2 separate regions of the Homo sapiens genome follow, and region 1 is linked to region 2. Evidence: fine-mapped expression QTL. Tissue or cell type: putamen. Region 2 holds a variant in brackets; the other region holds the start of a gene. All regions are shown on one strand. Distances are from middle to middle.

Region 1 (8,000 bases), 220 kb before region 2:
TTTCTTGATTAGCATCTGAAACCGGTCCAAATCTATCTAAAATTAGCCCTTCTTTAGGTTGTTTTTAAAGAATCCCTAAAACAGCAGACTAGCTCCACACTAGAAATTCAAATAAAAGCAAAGGAAAAAGTCAGAAGGTATTCAAAATATGTCCTATCAATATAAAGATTAAATTTTTGATGCCTTGCTGAGAATTCCTGCAAGCAAGAGATCATAGCACCTCACACATTCCTAAAACATTCTATCTACATACCCACCTAAGTTTCCACAGAGGTGCTCAGAATTTACTTTACTCTCTCTGGTGATGGATAATTTCCATGCTTTCAAATCACTTTTGCTGTAAATACCCTGAGGCACTTACTTTGGTATAAAAGACTCTTGGTCTCCGCATTAAAGACACAAACAGGCCGGCACGGTGGCTCATGCCTGTAATCCCAGCACTTTGGGAGGCTGAGGCGGGCAGATCACGAGGTCAGGAGATTGAGACTATCCTGGCTAAAATGGTGAAACCCCGTCTCTACCAAAAATACAAAAAAATTAGCCAGGCGTGGTGGCACGTGCTTGTAATCCCAGCTACTCAAGAGGCTGAGGCAGAATCGCTTGAACCCGGGAGGCGGAGGCTGCAGTGAGTCAAGATTGTGCCACTGCACTCCAGCCTGGGTGACAGAGCAAGACTCCGTCTCAAAAAAAAAAAAAAAAAAAAAAAAGGCGCAAACAAAGCACTCACAGAAAACTAAACACAGAATTCACTCTACATATTGGCCAAAGGGAGACAATTTCTGGATACTGAGCAACACACAATTTATGATCTTATGTGAAAACTGATGGCCGGGTGTGGTGGCTCACATCTGTAATCCCAGTACTTTGGGAGGCTGAGGCGAGTGGATTGCCTGAGCTCAGGAGTTCAAGACCAGCCTGGGCAACAAGGTGAAACCCCGTCTCTACTAAAATACAAAATATATATACATATTAGCTGGGCGGGGTGGCACGTGCCTATAGTCCCAGCTACTCGGGCGGCTGAGGCAGAAGAATTGCTTGAACCCGGGAGGCAGTGAGCCGAGATCGTGCCACTGCACTCCAGCCTGGCGACAGAGAGAGACTCTGTCTCAAAAAAAAAAAAAAAGAGAAAAGAAAACTGATAACAAGGTGTGTTTATGTTTGTGGCCTGGGAGTGGGCTCATTTAGCATTTCATAAATGTTCTCTGTTCTCAGGTCATGACCCTTTGCCCAATGGTTTCACTATGGAGAATTTACAGATGTAACTGAAAAAATATAAACTACAAATAAATTCATTGGATAACCTATTTTTTTTAGAGTCATTTACTCAAGAAATTAATAGGGAACCCAGAGTCTAGCAGTCGGGCAATTTTGTTTTCTGATTCTGCAACCTGTGGCAGATGGTTTTCTTGGCACGTGTGACCCTGGCATTTTGCCCATATTTACACGGACTGACAGGAGTTTAAGGCTGGAGGGAGCATTTATTTTACGTGAGGTAAAAGGTCATGTCAGGCTTGCTTGTCACCTGTGTGTACATGTGGTTAATTCCCAGTCACTTCCATGTATATCCACACACTGGCAAGGGGCTATATGAGCATGAAGCAGCAAGTAGCACTTGACCTCTGTTCTATAAAGAGTGCTAACAAACAAGCGGAAATTGTGATCCTATCATTATTTGGTTTTTCATCCCTTCCTTCCCTATATGAAAGGAAAAGCTCTTGAAATAGTCCATTCTGGCGGGGTGCGGTGGCTCATGCCTGTAATCCCAGCACTGGGATGGTCAGCCCGAGGCCAAAGTGGGCAGATCACTTGAGGCCAGGAGTTCAAGACCATCCTAGGCACCATGGAGAAATCCTGTCTCTACAAAAAACAAAAATGAGCGGGGAGTGTTGTCCTAGCTCCTTAGGAAGCTGAGGCACAAGAATCGCTTGAACCCGGCAGGCAGAGGTTGCAGTGAGCCAAGATCACTCCACTGCACTTCACCCTGGGCGACAGAGTGAGACTACGTCTCAAAAAAAAAAAAAAAAAAAGGCAATTTTGTTTGGCAAATTCAATAGCATTCCTTTGAGAAAATTGGATCCCACAATCAGAACTAAAAATCATCACTACAGTCAAGCTTTTAAAAAAGGAAAAAGAACTATTTAACCAGATGCAAAGGTATACGTGACAAAATAAAACAAAAATTTAATGGTGTTACTATTCAGTGTCAGGAAATGAGCTACAAACCTCACATCCTAAAAACTCTTCAAGTCTTTTTGAAAAATACTATGTCATTCCTTCAATAATTAGTTATTTCGCCTCCTTTGATCACCATGTATTTAAGCAGGTGTGCTAGGTGCTTGAGAAACAAAAATAGGACACATCACCTGCCTTTGATAAGGTCCACAGAAATAACGCCAACGCAGGCTGAAAGCTAAACTCCTTGTCAGTCTCAAGAAGCCAAGGACCTATCACTTGCACCCTAGAACTCCAAAAGGTTCACAGAGTCGAGGTGAGGGCGCCCAGGTCACTGCTCGGGTGCTAGAGTTAACAGGTGGCCAAATGCACGTATAAACAGCAGTCTAAGAAGGAAACTCAGACGGAAAAAGTGTTGCCAACTGTCACCTACATCTTCCCAACCCCGCCCCCCAATCCTTTTTATAAATAAACGGAGGGTTTTTGAAGGGAACTGTCCAAGGTTACAACCTGATACGGAGGAATGCTTTGGTTTGGGATACCAACGAAATTGTTTATATATTTATTGAGTACTGCCACACAACATCTAAAAGTTGACAAAGTGTCAACCAAGGCACATAGAACATAAAATAAGACGTCTTTCTCAACAAGATTAAAACGTCAAGAAGAAACTGACCGAAAGAGGGAGATCTCTAACTTCCCAAAGCAAGGCAACCCCCTGGAAAGGTACTGGAACTAGCGGAAGTTACATATCCAGGGCAGAAGTGTCCCCCTCCCCAAGGGTAAAACTTTGAACCGCCATCTGACTATCCCACGGTGGTCGGAAACTTCCCTCAACAAGAAGCAACCAGACACCCAACAATCTCCGCCCTTGGCCAACCCCAGGTGTCCTCAGGCCAGGCTGCCGCTTCCTCCCCGGGCCCTGCCTCCTCCATCTCGCTCCCTTCCCAGGACACTCAGTAGCCGGCCTCGGCTTCCAACGCCGGCCTGGCTCCCGGGGTACCTGGAGGCCGCCGGGATCGGTCCCAGGGGGCATCGGCCTCAGGCCCGCCCTCCAGGAGGCCCGTCGCGCCTCTAGTCCCCGACCGGGCCGCGACCCCGCCCCGGCCGCCCCCGGAGACGGATCCCGCGGCCCCCGCCCTGCCGCCGGCCTCACCTCCTCAGCGTGCTTGCGCAGCGCCTTCTCCCGCTCGTACTGGGTGATGAGCTGCTCGTTGTCGTCCCGCAGCAGCTCCAGCTCCACCTGGTGCTCCTGGTCCTGCGCGAACACCGAGTCCAGGTTCTCCAGCACAGCCACCACCAGCGGCATCAGCTCTTTGACCACCTCCTCGTCATAGCGCCCGATAAGCCGCTCGAACTCGCGGTAGATGGAGCCGGCCAGGCCGGACACCCGCTCCGACATCACGGCCCCGGAGCCGCCGGGCTCCTCCTGATACACCACACCGTCCTCCAGCTCCATGGTGGCAAGCGGACGGGCGGGCGGCCCGGGGCGTCGCCGGCAGAGGGGCGGCACCTGCCCGCACGGGACGGACCCGACTCGGGCTGGGACGGGTACTAGGGCTGGAGCCCGGGCCGGGGCTGGGGCTGGGCCCGGCGGGGTGGGGGCCGGGGCCGGAGGAGGGGAGGGGTGGCGTAGGCGCTCTCACCCCAACCGCCGCTGCACCAACTGCCGGGGCGGCCCGGCCGCGCGCGCCACACGTCATCCGCGGGGCGGGGCCGGCGCCGCGTCGGCCCGATGGGCGGGGCGCCGCGGGAGGCCAGGCGCGGCCGGGGGCGGGGCCAAGCGTCTTCGGGCGCTGGCGGAGGAAGCCATGGCGTCAACACCCGGCGCCGCGAAGACGGTGCGGGCGCCAATGGGAAAGACTGCGGTCGGCGGGTGGGGAGAAGTATCCATCCACAGCGGGATTCGCGGGGCGGGTCCCAGGGGAAAGGGAGGGGTTCGGGAAGAGTGACGAGTTAACTTAGCTGGCATTTCTATGGCTTTTTAAAGCTCACAAAGCACCTACTCACTTCATCCCCACAACAGGCGTAAAGAGGTAGATATTTGGACCTCGTTTCACAGACAAAGAAACTAGGCCCAGGAAAGTGGCGTTGCTCTCAAGGTCACGCAGCTACAACGGGAAACGGGCTGAGCCGGGACTCAAACCAATTACCCAGATTGAGAATTCCGGGCTCCGAAAAAAACTGGAAACAGAAAGGGAGGGAAAAAAAACCATAACCAGGGTCTGCCCAAGTGGAAAGGTGGTCTCGAATAGAATAGAACTGTTTTGTGCTATGGAAGAGCAAGGGTGAGATGAGGGGAAATGGGAGTGACTGCTAATAGGTATGGGATTTCGTTTTGGGATAATAAAAATGTTCTAAAAAATGTATTATAGTGATGAATACACAACTCTAAATATGCTAAAAGACATTCAACTTTACACGTTAAGTGAGTGAATCATATGGCGTGTGAATTATATCTCAAGTTATTAAAAAATAAACAGGAAGGGTGATAGCATTCTGGAGAAGGGTGAAACTGGAACGTTACATGTGGCACTTTCCCACATAGTGTGTCTGCTACTTCTGGCCAACTTGGGACGGGGACATTTCCAGGCTCCAGCCACCCTCCTCTCCTCAAGTCTTGAAGTGGGGCGGAAAGGGTAAGTGGGAGGTTGGGGAACAGAGGAGGTAAGGGGTGGAGTCACTGGAGTGAATAAGTCCCATGACAAGTGAGGTTTCTGCCGCCTGGGAGAGTGTCACGTGTGGGGAATGACACAACGCCCACGCCTAGAGCGGGCTGAGTCAAGGATCCCGGTGTGCTCATCTAACGTCCGCAAATGGGACGGAAGACACTCTCAAAAGTCCCTTCTCTGTGTCTCAGGTGACTCAGCTCTCCGTCCCGACTCGTTTAAGAAAAGGGGGAGGAAAGGCAGGATAAACATAGGTTTAAGGGGAGAATTGGCCACCCACCGGGATCATAACTACCCTTAGCTTGGGGTTTACAAGTTTAAGTACTTCCCACCAAGTATGAAGTAGTCCCCTAAAGTTTCCTACGCATGACCCACCTGGAGACCCATAAAAACAATATGAAGGTTGGGCAAGAGTAAACCTATAAATTTGGAAGGACAAAGATGAAAATACTAAGTCTTATGAAGTGCCAGATGGGACTGAATTTGCGGCCTGTGTTTTTTCCCGTTCTCACCCTCACCCCACATTCACCCTTATGTCATTTAGATATTTGGGTAGTAGGAATGCCGACCAGCTGGTTGGCTGTGAGCCGCAAATGCCCTTTCTCTTCTTAACCTTTCATATTTGAAAACTAGAAAAAGTCTTGATCTGAATCTCTCCTCTTTTATTTTCTCTTCCTGAGGGCTGTCACTCACCTGGTCTACCTATATGCATGCCTCTCTTTTCCTGGGGGATCAGAAGAGCCAAAAAACATAGGGCAAGGCTTTACTTTTTCTTTCCACAATATTATCATACACATCAAAAAATTTAAAGAAAAAAGTATCAGCCGGGCGTGGTGACTCATGCCTGTAACCCAGCACTTTGGGAGGCCGAGGCGGGTGGATCACAAGGTCAGGAGTTCAAGACCAGCCTGAACAATATGGTGAAACCCCATTTCTACTAAAAAGTACAAAAATTAGTCGGGCATGGTGGTGCACACCTATAATCCCAGCTACTCAAGAGGCTGAGGCAGGAGAATAGCTTGAACCTGGGAGGCGGAGGTTGCAGTGAGCAGAGATCACACCATTGCACTCCAGCCTGGGCGACAGAGTGAGACTCCATCTCAAAAAAAAAAAGAAAAAAGAAAAAAGTATCGATTTTTCAAGTACGAGATTTTAATTGTCATTCCTAATAAGTATACTTCTTTAGGTATACGTTCAACATAGAAAGATACACACTTATGTCTTGATTTTAAGCTTCTGCCAGTTATCAGAGATAACATTTAGTTAAAATAAAATTCAGCTAAATAACCATCAGCTGATGAATGGATAAAATGTGACATAGGTATACAATGGACTATTATTTGGCAATAAAAAGAAAGTCGTTGGAGGGGAGGGGAGTAGGCGTGGTGGCTCGCGCCTGTAATCTCAGCACTTGCAAGAGGATGGCTTGTGCCATGAGTTGGAGACCAGCCTGGGCAACATAGTGAGACCTTCATCCCTGACAAAAAAAAAAAAAAAAATTTTTTTTGGCCAGGCACGGTGGCTTACACCTGTACTCCCAGCACTTTGGGAGGTCGAGGCGGGCGGATCACCTGAGGTCAGAGGTCAGATGTTCAAGATCAGCCTGACCAATATGGAGAAACCCTGTATCTACTAAAAATACAAAATTAGCCGGGCGTGGTGGCCCGCACCTGTATTCTTAGCTACTCAGGAGGCTGAGGCAGGAGAATCGCTTGAACCTGGGAGGCGGAGGTTGTGGTGAGCCAAGATCGAGCCATTGCACTCCAGCCTGGGCAACAAGAGCAAAACTCCGTCTCCAAAAAAAAAAAAAAAGAATAGAAAAGAAAACAAAAATTTTAAGTACATGCCATGACATAGCTGAATCTTTTTTTTTTTTTTGAGATGGAATTTCGCTCTTGTTGCCTAAGCTGGAGTGCAATGGTGCAACCTCAGCTCACCGAAACCTCCGCCTCCCAAGTTCAAGCGATTCTCCTGCCTCAGCCTCCCGAGTAGCTGGGATTACAGGTGTGCGCCACCACACCCGGCTAATTTTTTGTATTTTTAGTAGAAACAGGGTTTCACTACGTTAGCCAGGCTGATCTCAAACTCCTGACCTCAGGTGATCCACCCACCTTGGCCTCCCAAAGTGCTGGGATTACAGGCGTGAGCCACCATGCCCAGAGATACAGCTGAATCTTGAAAAAGCTAAGTGAAAGAAGTCAGTCACAAAGGACCACATATTGTACAATTCCATTCGTATGAAATGTGAATTTAGTGATTGGCTAGGTCTCAGGGGCATGAGAGGGTGAGATGAGGGGAAATGGGAGTGCCTGCTAATAGGTATGGGGTTTCTTTTTAGGATAATGAAAATGTTCTAAAAATTGATTATAATGGTGAATACACAACTCTGAAAATATGCTAAAAGACATTCAACTTTACACATTAAATGAGTGAATCATATGGTATGTGAATTATATCTCAAGCTATTAAAAAAATATATGAAGTAAAAGTTATGGCTGGTGGGGCGTGGTGGCTCATGCCTGTAATCCCAGCACTTTGGAAGGCCAAGGCGAGCAGATCACTTGAGGTCAGGAGTTCGAGACCAGCTGGCCAACATGGTGAAACCCCATCTCTACTAAAAATACAAAAATTAGCCGGGCATGGTGGCGTGCACCTGTAATCCCAGCTACTCGGGAGGCTGAGGCAGGAGAATCGCTTGAACTGGGAGGCAGAGGTTGTAGTGAGCTGAGATCATGCCATTGCACTCCAGCCTGGGCGATAGACCGAGACTCCATCTCAAATAAATACATAAATAAATAAAATTTATGGCTATAATGATTTTTATAGTAGACCCAATGAAAGCACATCACTCAGTATGATTGAGGTGAAAGAAACTGGTGTTGAAATTAGGAACCTTGTATTCTAGTATGGACTGGTCATTTTGAACAACTTAGGCCATAAACAAAAGAGCAAGTAGTTACTGATTACCCACTTAGTGACAGTCACAAGGATAAGGGCTGTAAACTTCAGCTTATTCATCCGTATGATGAAGGGGTTTGTTAGAAAATCTGTCCCAGCACTTTGGGAGGCTGAGGTGGGAGGATCAGTTGAGGGTAGGAGTTTGAGAGAAGCCTGGGCAACATAGCCAGAGCATTTCTGAAAATAAAAATAAAAAATAAA
Region 2 (8,260 bases):
CACTTGCACCATTGGAAAAATGCATTATTGCTTTCTCTAGCAGCTGATTAAATTCTAGTTCCCCATGATGCATGGAACTTGCTTGAGGACTGGTGGAGTACCTGGACTATAGACTTCATTCTGAAATCCCACCAACTCCCAAAGAACCCATCATACAGCCCATGGTGCATGCACACTCCAGGTACCACTACCATATGACTACAGGCCCAACCACCACCTCTTGAAAGCCAGAGTGGACCTACCTCTCTTGAGGCTGGCCTTGTAGCCAATCTAGTTGGCTTCTGTGTGTTCCATAGCCTTGCCATGTGCCTTGGACCATGCAATATTGATGATGATACAAGTAATCCTTTAGTGAGCACTTATCAGTGTACCGGGTGCTGTGCTAAATGTGCTTCAAACAACATTTCATTGAACTCCCACGACTCAATGAATTCATTTCTATTGCAGATGAAGCCTCTGAGAAGTTAGGTAATTTTTCTCTAGGTTACAGTGCAAGTAAGTACAAGAGCCAGGACTAAAACTCAGGCTTGTTAGAAGTGTCCAAAATCCATGTTCCTAATGACTTGTAGCATGAGGGTTCCCAGAAGCTAGCTCTGAGATGGAGATTTGTATGCAGGAGATTTACGAGGAATGTGCTTCGGATCAACACCTGTGGAAAGAATGAGTTGGAAGCAGGATGGGGCAGATGAAGAAGCTGAGCACTGATGAAGTCCCAGTGAAAGCCTCAGCTAGCCCCCAGGGAACTCTGAAGCTGGGATGGCCCTTTAGAATCATCCTGTTGTGATATAGAAGCTGGAAAGAGGAGAAACCTATAAAATAATTAAGAAACAATTCTATGTCATCACTCCAGGGAAGCTCGTTAATTTATTCACTTACTTGCCCACTCATTCTTTGATTCACTCATTCATTCATTCAGTGTGCCAGATTCGGTGCTGGATTCTGGGGGACAAGGTACAAAGTGAAGTTTACAGTCAACACGGAGATGATGAACACATGAGCTAGCAGAACACAGTCTTACGGGTGCTCAGATAGAGATGTGCACAGGGTTCCATGAGAGAATGGACGTGGGGATGCACTGAAAGCAAGTGGGAGGAGCCAGGATGTTGCTGCCTCCTCAGAGGTGACTGGGCTTTCCTAGGGCAGGGGAAGAAGGGCATTCTGGGCCCAGGGGAAAGACTGAGCTTTTTAGTTTTCTCCAGATGGGTTTTTTTTTTTTTTTTTTTGAGACAGAGTCTTGCTCTGTTGCCCAGGCTGGAGTGCAGTGTCACAATCTTGGCTCACTGTAGCCTCTGCTTCCCAGGTTCAAGCAATTATCCTGACTCAGCCTCCTGAGTAGCTGGGATTACAGGCGTGTACCACCGTGCCTGGCTAATTTTTGTATTTTTAGTAGAGATGGGGTTTCACCATGTTGGCCAGGCTGGTCTCAAACTCCTGACCTTGTAGATCTGCCTTCCTCAGCCTCCCAAAGTGCTGGGATTACAGGCGTGAGCCACTGTGCCCAGTCTCAGATAGGGTTATCTTAGTTAATTTGGGCTCCTGTAACAAAAGTCAAGACAGAGTGGCTTGTAAACAACAGACATTGACTTCTTATAGTTCTGGAGGCTGGAAGTCAGATCAGGGCCACAACAACTTTCTGGTTAGGGCCCTCTTCTGGGTTGCAGACTGCTGACTTCTTATCCTCACATGGCAGAAAGAGCTAGAGAGCTCTCTGGGGTCTCTTTTATGAGGCACTAATCCCATTCATGACAGCTCCACCCTTATGACCTAATTACTCCCAAAGGCCCCACCTCCATTATCCCCTTGGGGGTTAGGATTTCAATATATGAATTTTTGGGAAACACAAACATTTAGCCCATGACAGGGGCCAAGGGAGTGAGGTGGGATCAGAAACCAAGGCCCTCAGATGTGTGTGTGGCAGGGAGGGTGGTGGGTAAGAAACTCATCAGTGCGGTTTCTGCACACGCCCTGTTTATCCAGGCCCTTTGATTCTCCCCAAGAGGGAGGAGACCAGCGAGGAGACCAGCATTGGGCAGAACAGAGAAAAGAGGTGGCAAATTATTACCCATTAAGTTCCAGAGCCACAGAAGCAGTTATAAAGTAGAAAGATTTGGGAAGAAGGTGTGATCAGCAGAAAGCAGATTTTCTTCCTCCCCTTCTGCTGGGACAGATGAAGATGTGGCGGGCACGGGGGATGGATGTAAGAGAAGCTGTGGTAGGGAGGGCTGACTAGGAAAAAATGGATGGTGGGGAAAACATACTAGTTAGCTCTTCAAAATTTATCCCAGTGCAGAGGAGTGCAGGTGAACGGACAGGAGATAAAGAGAGCAGATGAATCTCAGGGGCCAGGGACAAACCAGTAGTCAGGGCAGTGGGAGCCTGACACCAAAGGGGTGTGTCTCTGCCGGGGTCTGTGGACTTCAGGCTGGTGTTGGGTCCAGGAGGGTCTGACCCTGCAGTGGTGGACCAAGGTGGGGCTGAGGGGGTGAAGGGTGAGAGCACAGGCCTTCAAGAAGGTAAAGAGTTTGCCCATGGAGAAGAGGACATAGCGGAATCTACAAGAGGTCCTATCAGCTACCCCATGCTTGCTTCTAGGAACAAGGACACGTGGTCAGAGGCACAAGGGAGTAATTGTCAGGGATCCAAGTCACTTGCAGAGGCCTTTCTGAATGGTGGGTTCTGAGGTGGCTGTATCCAGGTGTGGCGTCTCCACCCTTGGCCTTGCATGGAGAACCCAGGAAGCGAAGCTACAAGGGCAAAGCAGAAGGATGGGGATGTAGGCAGTGACTGTGTCCCCCTAAAATTCATATTGATGTTCTAATCCCTGGTACCTTGGAATGTGAATGTATTTGGAGATAGGGCCACTAAAAATGTCATTAAGATAAAATGAGCTCATGTGGTGGGTCCTAACCAATATGACTGGTGTGTTTACAAGAGATTAGGACACAGAAAACACACAGGCAGAGAGATGATCATGTGGACACACAGCAAGCCAAAGAGAGAGGCCACCAAAGAAACCAACTCTCAGAGTTCTAGCCTCCCAATCTGTGAGAAAATAAATTCTGTTGTTTAAGCCACCCAGCCTGTGGTACTTTGTTATGGCAGACCTGGCCAACTGTGAACAATGGCCATTTGATTTCTTCTCTCAGTAGATTCCAGGCATGCTGTCATTGCTTTGCAGATGCTTACTGAGCACTTGCTGGGTCCTGCACCCAGCTGGCTGCTAGGGATAGTGAGGGGCACGAGGCACTCTCTGCCCTTGCAGAGCTCACTGGAGGAATAAACCTTTGTAGAGGAAGGTTTGATGGGCTTTCCTGGAAGAAGTACTCATAGGAAAACCCAAAAGCTCAACAGATGCTGTCTCCTTGGTTAACATTAGGAGCTATGATCTCCATCTTCCCATGGCATTAGAGGTTTAGATACTGAGGATCAGAGAGGCAAGTTCAGCATCAGAAGGCAGGAAGAGGCAGAAATCTGGACACCGATTCCTAACTCTAAAGCTGCGTCATCTCTAGTGCATCTCATCAGCTCTTCCCAATGGCACCAATCAACTTTAGCATACTGGCCAGCCGGAATAGATGTCCTTGGGCATTCTTAAGATCTGAGACTGTGATGGTTAATTTTAGGGTATCAGCTTGACTGGGTTGAGGAATGCCTCAGTGGCTGGTGGCGTCCATCATTCCTGGGTGTGTCTGTGAGAGTGTTTCCAGAGGAGACTCACATGTGAGCCAGCGGGCTGAGAAGGAGACCCGTTCTCAGTGTGAGTGTGCACTGTCCAATCAGCTCAAGGCCAGGCTGGGGACAAACAGGCAGAAGAAGGAGGATTCTCTCTCCCACCTTTCTGGAGCAGGATGCCTTTTCTCCTTGGACATCAGACTACAGGGTCTTTGGCTTTTGGATTCTAGGACTTGTACCAATGGCCTCCCGGGGCCCTCAGGCCTTCAGCCTCCAACGAAGGTCTGTGCTGTTGGCCTCCCTGATTCTGAGGCTTCTGGACTTGGACTGAGGCATGCTACGGGCTTCTCTGATTCTCCAGCTTGTGGATGGCCTATCATGGGACTTCTCCACC[T/G]CTGTAATCACAAGGGCCAATGCCCCCTAATACCTTTCTTTTCATATATCCTACTGGTTCTGTCTGCCTGGGGAACCTTGACTAATACAGATATGGAGCATTTGAAATGAGAGGATTTCTGATCCTGTTCTTCAAGAAGCAGTAGGTCAGAGCATACCTCTTTAAAATAACTTCTGGATAGTTTCACAGTTAGAAAGAATCAGCTTCAGGTGATCTTGAAGATCCCACTTGGATTCCACTCTCCAGCTCTCAGGAAGCTCTGGCTTCCTTACTTCTTCTGGGATTTTCCTTTCATGCTGGGGAGAGATGCTCCCTCACCACTACCCAGCCCATGGGACACACCGAGTCTGGTGGAGGATGCTGTGACCTGTGGTGCTTGTGATTGGTAAGCCTTGGGGCACTTGAGGGAGGGAGAGGAGAAGGTGGCTGCTTGATAAGAAAGATGAGATGCATATAATTGCCACTGATATTTGCAGCCGCTGTAAATCCCCTCAAAGAGACCCTGAATCTCTAATGGGGCACTTTCACAGGGAGATGGGATCCAGCTTGATTAATCAATTGTGGCTTCATTAGTTTCTCCCTGATATTTAATAGTAGTTAAAACCCAGCCCTCCAGGACCGGGCTTAGGCCACCCACACCAAGAGGAAAAGTGTCAGCCTGGGAGGGCTCAAGTCAACAAGGGACGGGGCTGGTTTTCCTCCTGTTAGGAGCAAATCTGTTCTCATGCTTCATTACTTAATCAGTTGCTACAAGGGAAGATTAGATACAAAGATAGAGGATTAAACAAAAAACACTGGTAGTAAGACACTTAGAAAGTAGGGGAGAGAGAGAGCTGGCATTTACAGAACACTCAGATCCCTCCTGAGCTTGAACCTTCTGGATTCTTCCTGAACATCTCTCTGCTATACATATATCACCTCATTTAGTCTTCATCAAGAGCCTCCGATTATTTTATTTATTTATTTATTTATTTGAGACAGGGTCTTGCTGTCACCTAGGCTGGAGTGCAGTGGTGTGATCTTGGCTCACTGCAACCTCTGCCTCTCAGATTCAAGTGATTTTCCTGCCTCAGCCTCCCGAGTAGCTGGGACTACAGGCGTGTGCCACCATGCCAGCTAAAATATATATATATATATATATATATATATATTTTTTTTTTTTAGCAGAGACGGGGTTTCACCATGTTGGCCAAGCTGGTCTTAAACTCCCGACCTCAGGTGATCTGCCCGTCTTGGCCTCCCAAAGTGCTGGGATTACAGGCATGAGCCACTGCATACAGCCCATTTTATTATTTTTCTTTTAATTTTTTTGAGACAGGGTCTGGTTGTGTCATCTAGGCTGGAGTGCAGTGGCACAATCTTGGCTCACTGCAGCCTCTCCCTCCTGGGCTCAGGCGATCCTCCCATCTCAGCCTCCAGAGTAGCTGGGACCATAGGCACATGCCACCACGCTTGGCGAATTTTTTGTATTTTTAGTAGAGATGGGGTTTTGCCATGTTGCCCAGGCTGGTCTCCAACTCCTGAGCTCGAGAGATCCATCTGCCTCAGCTTTCCAAAGTGCTGGGATTATAGGCATGAGCTACCACGTCTGGCCTGATTGTTCATTTTAGAGAGAAGAAATGGAGACCCAGGGAGCTTAAGGATTTTGCTTGGCTGCCCAGGTGTAAGGATTGTGGAAGTCTAAGTTTATGTTCTTCATACTCTTCCAGTGCAGCCCAAACATTCAAAATCAGGGGTCGGCATACTACAGACTGCAGGCTAAATCCACCACACTGCCTGTTTCTGTGTGATCTGTGATCTAGGAATGGTTTTTACATTTTTTTTTCCTCTTTTTGAGACGGTCTTGCTCTGTCACTCAGGCTGGAGTGCAGTGGCACAACCTCTGCTCACTGCAGCCTTCACTTCCTGGACTCAAGTGATCCTCCAACCTCAGGCCCCGAAGTAGCTGGGACTACAAGTACACACCACCATGCTCAGCTACATTTTTTTTTTTTTTGTAGAGACAAGGTTATTTTTAAATTGAATGGCAAACTATCCATTGAGTATAACTTTTTTTTTTTTTTAAATACAGCGTCTTACTGTGTCGCCCAGACTGAAGTGCAGTGGTACAGTCTCAGCTCACTGCAACCTCGGCTTCCCAGGCTCAAGCAATCCTCCTGCCTCAGTATCCCAAGTAGCTGGGAAAACAGGTGAGCACCACCATGCCCAGCTGATTTTTGTATTTTCTGGAGAGACAGGGTTTCACCATGTTGCCCAGGCTGGTCTTGAACTCCTGGGTTCAAGTTATCTGCCTGCCTCAGCCTCCCAAAGTGCTGGGATTACAGGCGTGACCCACCACACCCAGCCTACATTTCTTTATTTTAAATATGTAATTTATTCCACATTCTAGATATTATTTCCTTACTCTGGCTTTTGTTTATAAGCTGAATCCCTGAAACAAATGGAGAAACTATTCCGTGGATAACAGCACTTCTTTAATTTGAAAGATATAATTTTGCCTATATTCTCAATATTATTTCCTTTCTTTGGTATTAAATATAAGTTGAATACTCGGTACGGAGTAAGGGGCCTACCACGTAATAGGTGGTCAATATATGTCTTGAATAAATATTGAATAAATATAAAAGCAACATTTAACCTACTAAATCATAGTTTAGAAATTTCCTTTATTCTGATCTATAACAATCATTCAATGCAGTCCTACTGCATTAAACTTTTTAAAATGTTTACTTCTACAGTTGATATACAGTGTTATAATAAATTCTGACAGCATAAATTAAATCAATAGAAAAACTATTGTCCAGGCTGGTCTTGAACTCCTAGGCTCAAGTGGTCCTCCAGCCTTGGCCTTCTTGGCTGCAGTGAGCCGAGATTGCACCACTGCACTCTAGCCTGGGCAGCAAAGCCAGACCCTCTCTCAAAAAAATAAAAATAAAATAAAATAAAATGAATAATCAGAAGCCCTTGGTGAAGATTAAATGAGGGCACAGGCATGAGCCACCGCACCTGACCTTTTAACATTTTTTAATGGTTAAAAAAATCAAAAGAATAATAATATTTCATGACACATGAAAACTGATATTCAAATTTTGGTGTCCATTAATAAGTTTTATTGGAACACAGATCTGCTCATTTACTTATGGATTACCTCTGGCTGCTTTTGCCCCACCATGACAGAGTTGAATAGTTTTCACAGAGACATTGTGGACAGCAATGCTTAAAAATATGTAGTAACTGGGCTTTTACAGAAAAAGCTCACTAACCCCATTCAAACTGATTCCCAGTCATCCTAAATGACAGGAAAAGATGGATTGAGTTCAGACATGGATGCACACTTTATTGATAACCAACTTTGTTAGACATAATTAAACACTCAAAATTTCAGAAACATCAAACACTGTTCCATTACCAGCCAGGAATGGTCCCATGAGGGTTTTAGGATTTATAAGCATCATTAAATGTTGCAGTAGAGACTTCTCAGCCACTTCAATGATTTGCCTTGAAGGTACTTAATATTTTCAAGTAAATGCCAGGGTTGGAGTTTTGAGTGTAACTGGAAGAGTTTGCTAATTTCTTTGTCCCTGGATTATCATATGCATGTGATTACTGCAAAAAAAAAAAAAAGTTTATACTTTCCCCAAAGTTGCTCAGCTCAGGGTTTGTGGCTGCCTAATTTATGAATGGTGGTGGTATACATCATGTTTGTCCCTTTCAGGTAAAAGGGAAGCAAAGGAAGAAAGAAGAAAAGAAGACAACCCATGTAGGATGTTAACCAGGTCACTGGTTTTATTGTCACATGCTTTTAAAAGAACATGCATGAGTGAGCTGTCTCACTTTCCAATCCAAGAATGTTTGATTCCACTGTGATGAAAAATTCTGTGACCTGGCAGGAAAACACTACAAGAAGGGCAGAAGCGGAAAATTCTTTCTATTTTCCAATATGGCTTTCTTTGATTCAAGAAAGGCCTCCTCTCCTCCACATCTCTGTCCTGCTCATGACCCCAGAAGATCTCAGGTTGACTGCATTTGTTCTATGCCTTCCTCAAGCTTCACCTCTTCTGTGAGCCTCCTGGGTGGGCTCCTTCTGGCTAAATCTTCCTCCTCACTGTTGCCTTTTTATCTTATGCAAGCACCTGCCTTATCTAAAGGTACATACCTTTTCATAGAACACTTGCCTGTTTACCTAGCTATTTC

Alleles and levels. Positions count from the first base shown, and alleles are read on the strand shown. Sizes are in standard deviations (SD) of each study's normalised expression.
For the expression in putamen of the gene that starts at base 3,843 in region 1, T is the low allele of the variant in region 2 and G is the other (moderate effect, 0.41 SD a copy in GTEx).

What was found. PIP is the estimated chance that this variant, and not a neighbour inherited with it, causes the effect.
Region 1: it holds the start of SPAG9, and the variant in region 2 is fine-mapped to the expression of SPAG9 in putamen (GTEx, PIP 0.95).

Annotation. Positions count from the first base shown.
Region 1 is chr17:51,117,026-51,125,025 of GRCh38, forward strand. It overlaps SPAG9 (sperm associated antigen 9), which reads right to left and starts at 3,843. Exons shown (of 30, transcript NM_001130528.3): 1 at 3,329-3,843. The coding sequence starts at 3,631. RefSeq lists silencers at 3,096-3,225, 3,246-3,325, 3,576-3,955 and enhancers at 3,356-3,475, 3,765-4,579, 4,096-4,325, 4,935-5,194.
Region 2 is chr17:51,333,470-51,341,729 of GRCh38, forward strand. LINC02071 (long intergenic non-protein coding RNA 2071) reads right to left here and starts at 1,693. Exons shown (of 6, transcript NR_110751.1): 1 at 877-1,693; 2 at 243-649. LINC02072 (long intergenic non-protein coding RNA 2072) reads left to right here and starts at 3,246. Exons shown (of 3, transcript NR_122104.1): 1 at 3,246-4,451; 2 at 6,138-6,255; 3 at 7,782-8,260. The variant T/G (reference allele first, on the strand shown) is at 4,067.